2 linked regions of the Homo sapiens genome follow. The protein of the gene in region 1 purifies or fractionates together with the protein of each later gene. This does not show direct contact. Each region holds a gene or a part of one and is shown on either strand. Other genes may lie near its edges.

Evidence for each region.
Region 2: the proteins of PXYLP1 (region 1) and FURIN purify together in Homo sapiens (affinity purification with mass spectrometry; 3 studies listed by BioGRID and IntAct, with this or other methods). This does not show direct contact.

Annotation. Positions count from the first base shown.
Region 1 is NC_000003.12:141,290,824-141,295,451, forward strand, and holds the end of PXYLP1 (2-phosphoxylose phosphatase 1), read left to right. Parts: intron 1-1,444; coding exon 1,445-2,382; 3' UTR 2,383-4,101; downstream 4,102-4,628. UniProt on the Homo sapiens protein: Responsible for the 2-O-dephosphorylation of xylose in the glycosaminoglycan-protein linkage region of proteoglycans thereby regulating the amount of mature glycosaminoglycan (GAG) chains.
Region 2 is NC_000015.10:90,864,075-90,871,600, forward strand, and holds the start of FURIN (furin isoform 1 preproprotein), read left to right. Parts: upstream 1-4,513; 5' UTR 4,514-4,637; intron 4,638-6,977; exon of another isoform or gene 6,978-7,076; intron 7,077-7,465; exon of another isoform or gene 7,466-7,526. UniProt on the Homo sapiens protein: Ubiquitous endoprotease within constitutive secretory pathways capable of cleavage at the RX(K/R)R consensus motif. Mediates processing of TGFB1, an essential step in TGF-beta-1 activation.

The DNA of each region.
Region 1 (4,628 bases):
TTCTTCATTGGGTTTTTGTGAGGATTAAATGGGAAAGGCCTGGCACACAGTAAGCACTCTAACTTTATGTGGCCTAACCAAATAAAATAGGCCCCGCAGTGAACTAGGGTGAGACACGGAATCTAATGTTTGTCTCTCACGGTTTGCATGTTTTTTTGCAAAGCGTCTTGGAAGTGCTAAATCCTGTTCCAGCCTTTAGTTCCTGGGTTCCTGGGGGAGTTCTGTTCTCAATACTCTTCATGCACAGTAGGACCCAGACATCCTTTGTGGGTTTTGCTGAGCTGTTCCCTTTCCCAGGGGAACATATTTCCCTCTGTCTCACAATTTTCAGCTGAAGTTGTCTCATCTTTGCAGTGGGACTTTTCATACTGTTTGGACATCTGAATAAATGGTGTCACTGGTCACAGGGCCTGTGTGTAGAACTCATGCCCATGACAGATTGTGTCCCGTTACCTCCTACTACAGGATGAGAGTGAGCTTGTTTTTGTCTTGGGTTGCCTTCTTCTGCTTAAAGATAAGGCTTTTTCCAATGTTAAAAGTTAATTTATTATCATACCATGATAGTTCAAAACTAAAACAGTACTAAGAAGTAAACTTTAAATTCTTGCTTCTACCCATGTTCCATCCACCTCATTTTTGTACCTCCGTCACCCCCAGGGAACCATTGAGATTAGTTTCTTATACAACTTTCCAAAGTTTCTTTATGCAAAACTCAGGCAGCTGCAAATACATATTCTTATTTTTCCCTCTCTTTCTTTTTAAAGGAGCATAATCAACATACTGTTCTACACTTGGCTTTTTTCCAGTATTCTATCTGGGTATCAGGAGATTGTTCCATATCATACAGAGAATGCATGTGTGTTGACGAGTCTGTAAAGCCCCCAGGATCAGGCAGAACGTACCCAGCAGGTTATCAGAGAACATTCGGTTGGCAGGCTGGGGAGGATGGGGTCAAGGAGGGGACTCTCCAGCAGTGAGGAGACAGCAGCAAGCAGGGAATCTGCAGTCAGCCTTCGCCTGAGCGGTTTCACTGAGCACTCGCTGCACACTGAGGAATGCTGGACAGGAGGGAAAAACCTCTCCTTAGGCCCATGCAATTACAGATATCCCCTGGCTGGGTGACTTCGAACCCTGAGACCAACCAGTCACAACACTTTCCCCAGGGAAGAGGCCAGTCTGGAGGCCAAGTGCAAGGCAGATGGTCCAAAGGCCGTGGTTCTCAAGGCCAGGGCCCCGCTCTGCTCATCCTTCATGAATAACCCCAAGAGGCTCCCTTCACAAGCTGTTGTGAACTCGAGCTTGTAACTTCCACACCATGGGGAAACAGGCTGGATGCCATTCTCTTGCCCTAAAACACTCCAGAGCCACACGCTGACTCCACCTCCCCTTGCTGTTTCTTTTGCTCAGCTGGAAGTAAGGTAAGCTTTGTGTGCTTGTGTTTCAGGAGTTGTGCAGCATTTGCAGAACGGTCAGCTGCTGAGGGATATCTATCTAAAGAAACACAAACTCCTGCCCAATGATTGGTCTGCAGACCAGCTCTATTTAGAGACCACTGGGAAAAGCCGGACCCTACAAAGTGGGCTGGCCTTGCTTTATGGCTTTCTCCCAGATTTTGACTGGAAGAAGATTTATTTCAGGCACCAGCCAAGTGCGCTGTTCTGCTCTGGAAGCTGCTATTGCCCGGTAAGAAACCAGTATCTGGAAAAGGAGCAGCGTCGTCAGTACCTCCTACGTTTGAAAAACAGCCAGCTGGAGAAGACCTACGGGGAGATGGCCAAGATCGTGGATGTCCCCACCAAGCAGCTTAGAGCTGCCAACCCCATAGACTCCATGCTCTGCCACTTCTGCCACAATGTCAGCTTTCCCTGTACCAGAAATGGCTGTGTTGACATGGAGCACTTCAAGGTAATTAAGACCCATCAGATCGAGGATGAAAGGGAAAGACGGGAGAAGAAATTGTACTTCGGGTATTCTCTCCTGGGTGCCCACCCCATCCTGAACCAAACCATCGGCCGGATGCAGCGTGCCACCGAGGGCAGGAAAGAAGAGCTCTTTGCCCTCTACTCTGCTCATGATGTCACTCTGTCACCAGTTCTCAGTGCCTTGGGCCTTTCAGAAGCCAGGTTCCCAAGGTTTGCAGCCAGGTTGATCTTTGAGCTTTGGCAAGACAGAGAAAAGCCCAGTGAACATTCCGTCCGGATTCTTTACAATGGCGTCGATGTCACATTCCACACCTCTTTCTGCCAAGACCACCACAAGCGTTCTCCCAAGCCCATGTGCCCGCTTGAAAACTTGGTCCGCTTTGTGAAAAGGGACATGTTTGTAGCCCTGGGTGGCAGTGGTACAAATTATTATGATGCATGTCACAGGGAAGGATTCTAAAAGGTATGCAGTACAGCAGTATAGAATCCATGCCAATACAGAGCATAGGGAAAGGTCCACTTCTAGTTTTGTCTGTTACTAAGGGTAGAAGATTATTGCTTTTTAAAGGCTAAATATTGTTTGTGGGAACCACAGATGGTTGGGGTTGAACAGTAAGCACATTGCTGCAATGTGGTACGTGAATTGCTTGGTACAAAATGGCCAGTTCACAGAGGAATAGAAGGTACTTTATCATAGCCAGACTTCGCTTAGAATGCCAGAATAATATAGTTCAAGACCTGAAGTTGCCAATCCAAGTTTGCACTCTTCTGGCCTGCCCCATGTTACTATGTGATGGAACCAGCACACCTCAACCAAAATTTTTTTAATCTTAGACATTTTTACCTTGTCCTTGTTAAGAATTTCTTGAAGTGATTTATCTAAAATAAAGGTTGGCAAACTTTTTCTGTAAAGGGCCAGATTGTAAATATTTCAGACTGTGTGGACCAAAAGGCCACATACAGTCTCTGTCATAACTACTCAACTCTGTTTCTGAAGCAGGAAAGCCACCACAGACAGTACATAAAGGAATATGTGTAGCTGGGTTCCCAGGCCGGACAAAACAGATGGTGACCAGATTTGGCCCCTGGGCTGTAGTTTGCTGACCCCTCATCTAAAAAATAGGCTATACTACAATTGCACTTCCAGCACTTTGAGAACGAGTTGAATACCAAGAATTATTCAATGGTTCCTCCAGTAACTTCTGCTAGAAACACAGAATTTGGTCTGTATCTGACACTAGAACAAAACTTGAGGGTAAATAAACATTGAATTAGAATGAATCATAGAAAACTGATTAGAAGAATACTTGATGTTTATGATGATTGTGGTACAAGATAGTTTTAAGTATGTTCTAAATATTTGTCTGCTGTAGTCTATTTGCTGTATATGCTGAAATTTTTGTATGCCATTTAGTATTTTTATAGTTTAGGAAAATATTTTCTAAGACCAGTTTTAGATGACTCTTATTCCTGTAGTAATATTCAATTTGCTGTACCTGCTTGGTGGTTAGAAGGAGGCTAGAAGATGAATTCAGGCACTTTCTTCCAATAAAACTAATTATGGCTCATTCCCTTTGACAAGCTGTAGAACTGGATTCATTTTTAAACCATTTTCATCAGTTTCAAATGGTAAATTCTGATTGATTTTTAAATGCGTTTTTGGAAGAACTTTGCTATTAGATAGTTTACAGATCTTTATAAGGTGTTTTATATATTAGAAGCAATTATAATTACATCTGTGATTTCTGAACTAATGGTGCTAATTCAGAGAAATGGAAAGTGAAAGTGAGATTCTCTGTTGTCATCGGCATTCCAACTTTTTCTCTTTGTTTTTGTCCAGTGTTGCATTTGAATATGTCTGTTTCTATAAATAAATTTTTTAAGAATACCTATACTATACAACTAATGGTTTGTACCTATAAGTCACTCGAGTTATTTTCAAGTGAGAGCCAGTATTTTATTTTTCCCCCTTCATTCAAATGTCATGCAGAGAACCAGTATTTTAAAATTTTATTTTAACTGCTTTACTAACTGCTGAAAGTTGTGTTATCTCTCAAGTATTCAAAGACTAAATGTGTTTTCTTTCCTTCCCACTCACAATATATCTGAATTAGAACTGCTAAACACAGCTTGAAGACTTAAAAATAAAAGTGACTCGGAAGATTTTTTAAAAAATCAATTGATAGTATCTGTTGGTAAAAGTAAATATTGTGGCTAAGAGTCAACACCAAAAGTGTAGATAACAGTTTTGTCTTCTAAGACACTGGTATGCACAGCATCAAAATATCTTCCTCACTATCAAGTTCCGAGACACTTCATTCCATAACAAACACTAAGCACAGAGATGAGATCAGTGGACACAGTCATAGTCCTTGGTTTCTGGGCAGTGGTCTAATGACTTAACTCATGACAGGCCTGGGTGTATACATGCATAATTTAGCTTCCTTGTTTTTATGATTAATACATGCCCACTAGAAAATAACCAATACTGAAAAACAGCTTCAGAAGTGATGTTCTCATCTAATCCCACCTCCAGAGGTAATGTTGTGAGCTGTCTGACATTCTTCTGGAAAAGTTCCATGTAGATTCAGAAATATATGTAGTTTTTAATAGGAACTAGATCATTTTATATATATGTAAATATATATAATATGTGTGTGTATATATATATAGTTCTGTGACTTGCTTCCCTTAAAAATATTTTTC
Region 2 (7,526 bases), on another chromosome or scaffold:
AAGAAACCAGAAAAATCAGCATGTACTACTGTGAGAACATAGGTGAACAATTCTTGTCCAAGAAAAAGTCAAATGTGAATCACAGCTGAGCCACCCACATCACGATGGCTGAGTGAATCTGTGTCTGATTTAGCCACAGTTCAGCTCTCTTGTAGAGGCAGAAAGCAGAGCGGTTGAAGTGTGTGTAGGCTTTCTATTCTTATGTCCCAGGTTCAAATCCTGGGTCTTTATTTTCCTTAGTGACTGCGAGTCCAGGCCTCAGTTTCCTAATCTGTGAAACAGGGATCATAACAGCACCTGCCTCAAGGGTTGTTGTGAGCAATATATGAAGCAATCATTATAAGGCATTGAGCACAGAGCCTGAGAGTATGAGCCCGTAAACTCACTGTGAGTTTCAGCTGTTAACTCAAAGCAGCTTTTTGTTGCCAAGTCGCTGGCTAAAGATGCCCAAGGGCTATGGTCTAGAGAGAAGCACCTGAACCCACCTAAGCAGTTGGGTTGGGGGATCCCGCCTGGCTGCTCCGCCAGCTCTTGTCCTGCAGAGGCCCCCACTTCGCAGGTCAGATGTGTGGTTCACCTCCTGTCCAGCCTTCCCAGGCCTGCGCAGGAGCCTACCACCTGCTCACTGGTTTGTAAGTCATTCAGGGGCTGGGCGCTTATAGAGTCACTCAAGGCGGTGACTCACACCTGTAATCCCAGCACTCTGGGAGGCCGAGGCAGGTGGTTCACTTGAAGTCAGGAGTTTGAGACCAGCCTGGCCAACGTAGCAAATGAAAACCCGTCTCTACTAAAAATACAAAAAATTAGCTGGGCGTGGTAGCACATGCCTCTAATCCCAGCTACTCGGGGAGGCTGAGGCAGAGGCTGCAGTGAGCTGAGACCGCACCACTGCACTCCAGCCTGGGTGACAAGAGTGACACTGTCTCAAAAAAAAAAAAAGTCACTGGACTCCCCCAAGCCAGTCCCCTACATTTCACATCAGGAGGGTCACCTATGGTGCCTCCTGCGTCGGGCTGTGGTGGGTTCCCACACGAACCCCCATATCTCTACTCCCCATGGTAGTCAGAGGAGCCTTTAAAAAGGGTAAATTTGCCGGGCACGGTGGCTCACGCCTGTAATCCCAGCACCTCTGGAGGGGGAGGCAGGAGGATTGCTTGAGGCCAGTCTGGGCAACAGAGTGAGAGCCCATCTTTTAAATTAAATTTAAAAATATAAAAATAAAATGGCTGGGCGCGGTGGCTCACGCCTGTAATCCCAGCACTTTGGGAGGCTGAGGCAGGTGGACTGACTGAGGTCAGGAGTTCGAGACCAGTCTGGCCAACATGGTGAAACCCTGTCTCTACTAAAAATACAAAAAAATTAGCCGGGTGTGGTGGTGTGTGCCTGTAATCCCAGCTACTCGGGAGGCTGAGGCAGGGGAATTGCTTGAGCCAGGGAGGTGGAGGTTGCAGTGAGCCGAGATTGCGCCACTGCACTCCAGCCTGGACGACAGAGCAAGACTCCATCTCTAAATAAATAAATAAATAATTTTTATTAAAGGGTAAATCAGTCAAATTTCCAAAAGAATTTTGAGAATCCAGAGCCCATTGCTCTGATAATTAAATTCAACATCTGGACCCAGCTTGGCAAGTGCTCTGTGATCCAGCCCGTTACCTACCTCTCATCTCATCTCTCGGCCATGCTCCAAGAAGTGTCTGCTCCCCAAGTGCATAAGCTCATGCCCCCAGGCCCATGTCCTTGCCTCTCCCTCTGCCTGGGACACTCTTCCTCCAGATCTTTACACTTTTGCCTCTTTTTTCAGCCTCAGCTCAAACATCACCTCCTCCCAGAGGTCTTCCCTGACCACCCCAGGGATAGCAGCCCTCCCGCTTCCCCAGGCACTCCCACATTACCTTCTTTATCATTTTCTTCCAGAGCTCTTAGGATGATCTGAACTTCTCTCATAAACTGGCTTATTCACCTGTGAACTGCCTGCTTCCCTCGCTATAACTGAAGCACTGGAAGAGGTCCTGCACCCAGCAGGCACTCAATGAGTATCTGAGGAATGAGTGAATGAAATGCCCAGTGCACAATCAACCTCCACAAAAGCAGTTTTTCTTTTCACATATAACTCATCGCTATCACAGCCCCTCTCCTTGCTCACCCGCCTCGCTGAGGGGCTCCTGAGAACCTCCGTAGAGGTCTCCATCAGCCAAAAAGCATCTGCACCGTCAGAGAGGGCCCCTCACTGCCGCTCGCAGTGCTCCCTGCTGCCACGTGCAGCCCCTTGAGCATGAGCCTGTTGACACAGGTTGGCACACGGTGTCTGGCTTCTGTAAATGCTCTCTGCTCCCAGGTGTGCCGTGCCCCATTGAAGGACAGCACTCACACTCCTCCAGGTATTAACTGACTTTTTCCCCAGCAATGTTTGTTTTAGGGATTAAAGTTTGTGGAGGAGCCTATAATTTCCAGACTCATCTGTTCCTTTCCTGGCAGCCAGCACATTTGTCATTCTATTTTTCCCAAGTCCCTGATAATACCGTTCCAGACATGTTGATTTGATGGCATCAGTCAACGGAAAGACTCTCTGGGGCCTGCCGTAGGCCAGAGGACAGGCTCTCCGGGCCACACTCAGGGGCGACTGAGCCAACTCTTCACGCCATTCCTTTCCTTCCCTGCCTAGGACGACCTTACAGCCCATGATCGCTTTTCTTCTTCTTCTTCTGTTTGTTTTTTCTTCCTGTTTTCTTTTTAAGTACTACAGTGACCCCTTATTTATTCAGCAAAGAAATGGACTACTCCACAGTAGTGAATTTTCAAAATAATGCCCTTCAAGCACTAAAACTTTAAACAACACATCTTCAAAACAGCTTTGCTGAGGTATAACTGACACACTATAAACGGCATGGATTTAAAGTGTACAACTTGATATGTTTTGATATATGGACACACCCATGAAACCATCACCACAATCAAGATAATGAACATGTCCATCATTCCCAAAAGTTTCCTCCCGCCCCTCCCTGCCCCCTTCCCCAAGCAAGCACTGATCTGTTTTCCAAATACGTCTTTAATGCTACAAGGGCTCACACACCTCCCCACCTTAGAAAATGGAGTATGATCAACATGATTGATCCTTTCCTTGATTCAGCATTATCACCAACACGATGGAAAGTGATCTCAGATGTCATGAGGATGCATGATTGTTTGCCCTGATCACTAAACGGCCCATTGTTGTGCTGGCATACTGGGCAGTTTCAAGTTTGGGAGTTTTCTCCCTCACTGCTAGCTGTCTCAGAGCTTAGTTCCCAGCAGACAACTCTTGCTGCCTCGAACCCTGGCACACTAACCACCATCCTGTGACGTTCCCACTCCTCATTCTGCGACAGTGGTTCTTTGCTGGGAGAGATTTTTGTCTCCCAAGGGACATTTGGCAATACCTGGAGATCTTTTTGGTTGTCATCATGGGAGCGGGAATGCTACTAGCAGCTAATGTTTAGTGACTAGGGATGCGACTGAACATCCTGCAATGTAGAGTGCAGTGTCCCCTACAGAGAATTATCCGACCCAAGATGTTGATAATGCCAAGGTTGAGAAACCCTGTTCAGGATGACAAACTGATTGAAAACTCAACAAGGGGACCGGGCGTGGTGGCTCACGCCTAATAATCCCAGCACTTAGGGAGGCCGAGGTGGGTGTATCACTTAAGGTCAGGAGTGCGAGACCAGCCTGGCCAACATGGCAAAACCCCATCTCTACTAAAAATACAAAAAAAAAAAAAAAAAATACGAGTGGCGTAAGCCTGTAATCCCAGCTACTTGGGAGGCTGAAGCATGAGAATCGCCTGAACCCAGAAGGCAGAGGTTGCAGTGAGCTGTGATCAGGCCATTGCATTCCAGCCTGGGCAACAGAGCGAGACTCTTGTCTAGAAAAAAAAAAAACAAACCCATAAAACAAACAAACAAAAAAAACTATGAGGATTGAGTGATTCACATTTCTGAATCGAGAGAGAGAAGGATGGGCAGCAGGCTTGTTGAAGCTGGAAGGCCAGGGAGGTCGCAGACTGAGGAAGACCCTGGTGTGTCCCAGGTACCTCCATGCAACCCTACTAGAGAGGTGGTCTCTGGCTTCCTATGGACAAGCTCTAAGGGACCCAGCTATGGGGCACCAGAGCCCAGCGTTCAGCAGCTGCTCAATGAATGTCTGCCAGGCGAGACTGCACCCAAAGCATTTATTAGGTACATAATTGTGGCAGCACTGGCTGGCCATGGAAGGCAAGGCAGAACACAAGGAGCTGGAGCTGGCGGAAGGAAGTCATTAAGTCAGCCAGTGGCTGGGATGCAGCAAAGCCAGGCAGAAGGTAAGTGCAGACCCACCCCAATAAATGAGGAAAATGAGAAGGGCTGGCTGGCCATGTTAGGATCCAGTTCCAGTGCGACCAGATATGTCACCACCACATCACTTTTAGCTCCTCCCCCCACCCACAGACACCCTGTTTGCCTGTCATATAAAGAAGGTTTTCCCAAAGTGGTTTAGCCAGAACTGGAAGGGCCCCGCCCTGTGAAGGGATAGGAGCCTGACTGTTGCAGCTGCAGTGAGTGGCGGGGAAGCAGCAGCGGCCAGGATGAATCCCAGGTGCTCTGGAGCTGGATGGTGAAGTATGGACATGCTTTATTCGATTTTGCATTGACTTAAAGGTTTAATTATTTTAGGAGTTCTTGTAGACATTCCTGAAAAATGCAGGTAGGCAAAAAGAAGAAAACAAAGATCGCAAATGTGACCCTTTCATTCGGAGAGAACACCAATGGAATTTTGTTGTGCACCCTTCTATGCACGTCTGAATGTTGTGTAGACATTCTGCTTACAACTAGGTGTGGGTGCTGCTGCCGAAGGCTTTATTTGCTGTGCCTGAGGTGGACCAGAGATTTCAGAGAAGACTCCCAGAGCACCCCAAGGAGACAACAGGAGTGCTTGGAGTCAGGATGACTGGGTGGATTTAGGACTATGTGATTCTCAGGAGCCTCTCTGGATTAGCCCCAAATCAAGGATAAAGAGAGGCCTAGCTGGACTCTTCCTCCCAGAGCCCTGCTGGGAAAATGGAGCCCCTTTACAGCCCCCACTTACCCATCAGGCCCTGCTCCTCTCACTCATCTCCAGACTTCTGTCACATGCCCAAGTCCTGCTAACTGCTGTGTAAAACTGGTAAGGTGGGATCCAGAGGACCTTGGGCCCCTAGGGCCCCAGGTCAGGAGACCTGGGCTCCAGGGCCAGTTGAGAGTGATAAAGAGAACAATACCTGCCCACAGGACTTGTTGCAATGAGATAAAGGCAGAAGTCACCAGTTGTGGTCAAATGGGATTTTTTTCCAGAGAAGTCTCACAGAGAGTGGCTTTCAAATTCTTTTTAGCAGCAGAATTGTTGTAAAATACAATCTCATGTGAAACCCTAAAATGTGAGACACTCTGGGTGAAGCAGAGAGAGGTGCTCAACTGCCCAATCCTGTCCTCATTCCTCCCTCTCAGGGAGGCACCTCTGAGAACCCACTTTAAAGAATTTTGCCTTATGCAGATTGAAGAGGCAAGCTGGCTGGAAGAAACTGGGAAGCTCCACTTCCCACCGCCTCTGCCTGGGTGGCAGTCATCTGAGCCTAGGCTAGCCCCTCCCCCTCCAAAGACCCACTGCGGGCTCCCCTGGGGCCAGTCTCCAGGATGGGTGGGGCACCTGAAGCAGCAAGTATTGCTATTTTTCTGGGCTGACCTTTCTTCTAGGCCTGAGGACAAGTGGGTAGGTGGGGCCAGCCCTGTCCCTGTTTCCCCTCAATGGAGTTCTCTTGCTCACAGCCTAAGGAAGAAGCGTGAGTCACTTCCTGCCTCAGTCTGACTGCTGGAGTATTGTTCTCCCAACTGTGGCTGGCGCTACCCAGTGTGGCCCCTACAAGTCTTAGTTCCTTGGCGGAGGGGAAGTCCCCACTTTGGGACAAGGCCAACTGGACTTATCTTCCCGCTCAACTTTGAGGACCCAGCATTGTTCCTCCAGTTTCCAGTTCTTGCAGTGTTTGTAAAGGTGCCCGAATCGTACCTGATCCCATTCACTAAATATTATCTCCATTTTATAGAGGGGTAAATTGAGGAAGTCCCTGAGAAATTAACTTGTCTAAGGTGTCCCAGCAAAAAATAGTGCCCCAGGGATTTGAACCGGTTTGCTGATTGATTTTTCACCAGTTGCCTTAAGAATTATCATGATTTAACCTCTCTGGGCCTCAGTTTCCTCCTCTATAAAATGCAGACAGTGATACATCAAAGGTACTTAAAGGAAAATGTACTGTACCCACCTCATGGGGCATGTGGTGAGGATAAAACGGGTTGACACAGGAAAAGAGCTCTCAATGGTGCCTGGCTCATAGAAAACACTCAGTGGATTTTTTTTTTCCCATTACCCGGGAACCTGTGTTAAGGAGGCCACAGGCTGATCCTGTGCAGCCAGGTTATCTCACAGGGAGCGAGAAGAGATGGGCACAGGCTACTCTGCGACCTTGGAATAACCCAGCCTGGGAAGCTCCTGGCCACATTTTCCTTCTTTTCTTTCTCAGCTCAAGCAGCGTCGGCCTCAGCCAAGTAGCACAAACGTTTTCTAGGGCCCAGGGAGGGAGAGGCTCCGGCTGGTATATTGCAAGTAGCTTGGATTCAGGCTCTGCCAAACACCCCAGTCTCTTGCAGGATCTGAGGTCTGCTGGTTGTGGGACTTTGCGCAAATTATTTAAACGTTGTGCGCCTCAGTTTCCTTATCTGTAAAATGGGATTAATAATCTCAGCCTGAAAGGATTATGTGGATTAAATCATGTACATAAGAAGGAGATAATGTAAAGTGACTGGCCTGGTGCCTGGCAAGCGGTTGGTGTCTAAAAAGAAAAAAAAGCTAAAAATATTAAAAGGAGGTGGGCTACTTCTGCTCATATATCCACCTGTCTATACAAATGCAGACGAAGTCGTGACTCCTCTAACAGTAGGCCAAGAGGAGGCTGGTCCTGCCGCCGTGCAGTCCTCCCTCGACCTGGGAGTGGAGGACCCCAGGTCCGCCGTCCCTGGGCACTTAACCCGGTCAGGCTCAAATTCGTCGCCCAGGAGTGGGGAAGCGGGGGACGGAGAGGGCCAGTCCCCCAAGAGTCCGGCTGAGGCAGGGCTCGGAGTGCCTCCCCCAAGCCTTTCCCTTTGGTTCCGAGTTCGGGTCTCCGCGGCCGTCTTCCCGGGGAGCTCGCGGGGCGAAGAGCCGAGCCCGGGGGCGGGGGCACGGCAGCGGGGCCTGAGGGACGCGCCGGGCGGCCGCGAGGACTTTGGGATCGCCTGCCCCACTTCCTACCTGCCCCTACCAGGAGCCGGAGGCAGCGGGCGCCCCAGAAGGCCCCGCAGGGCCGCCGCGCGGGGCCGGACGCGCTGGGGCCCACGGCGCTGGGAACGCGGGCCCGCAGTCGGGCCCGGGCGGCATGGGCGGCCGAGGGGCGCCCGAGCCGCCGCGGCGGTCGCCTGGAAAAGTTTCCCCGCCAGGGCTCC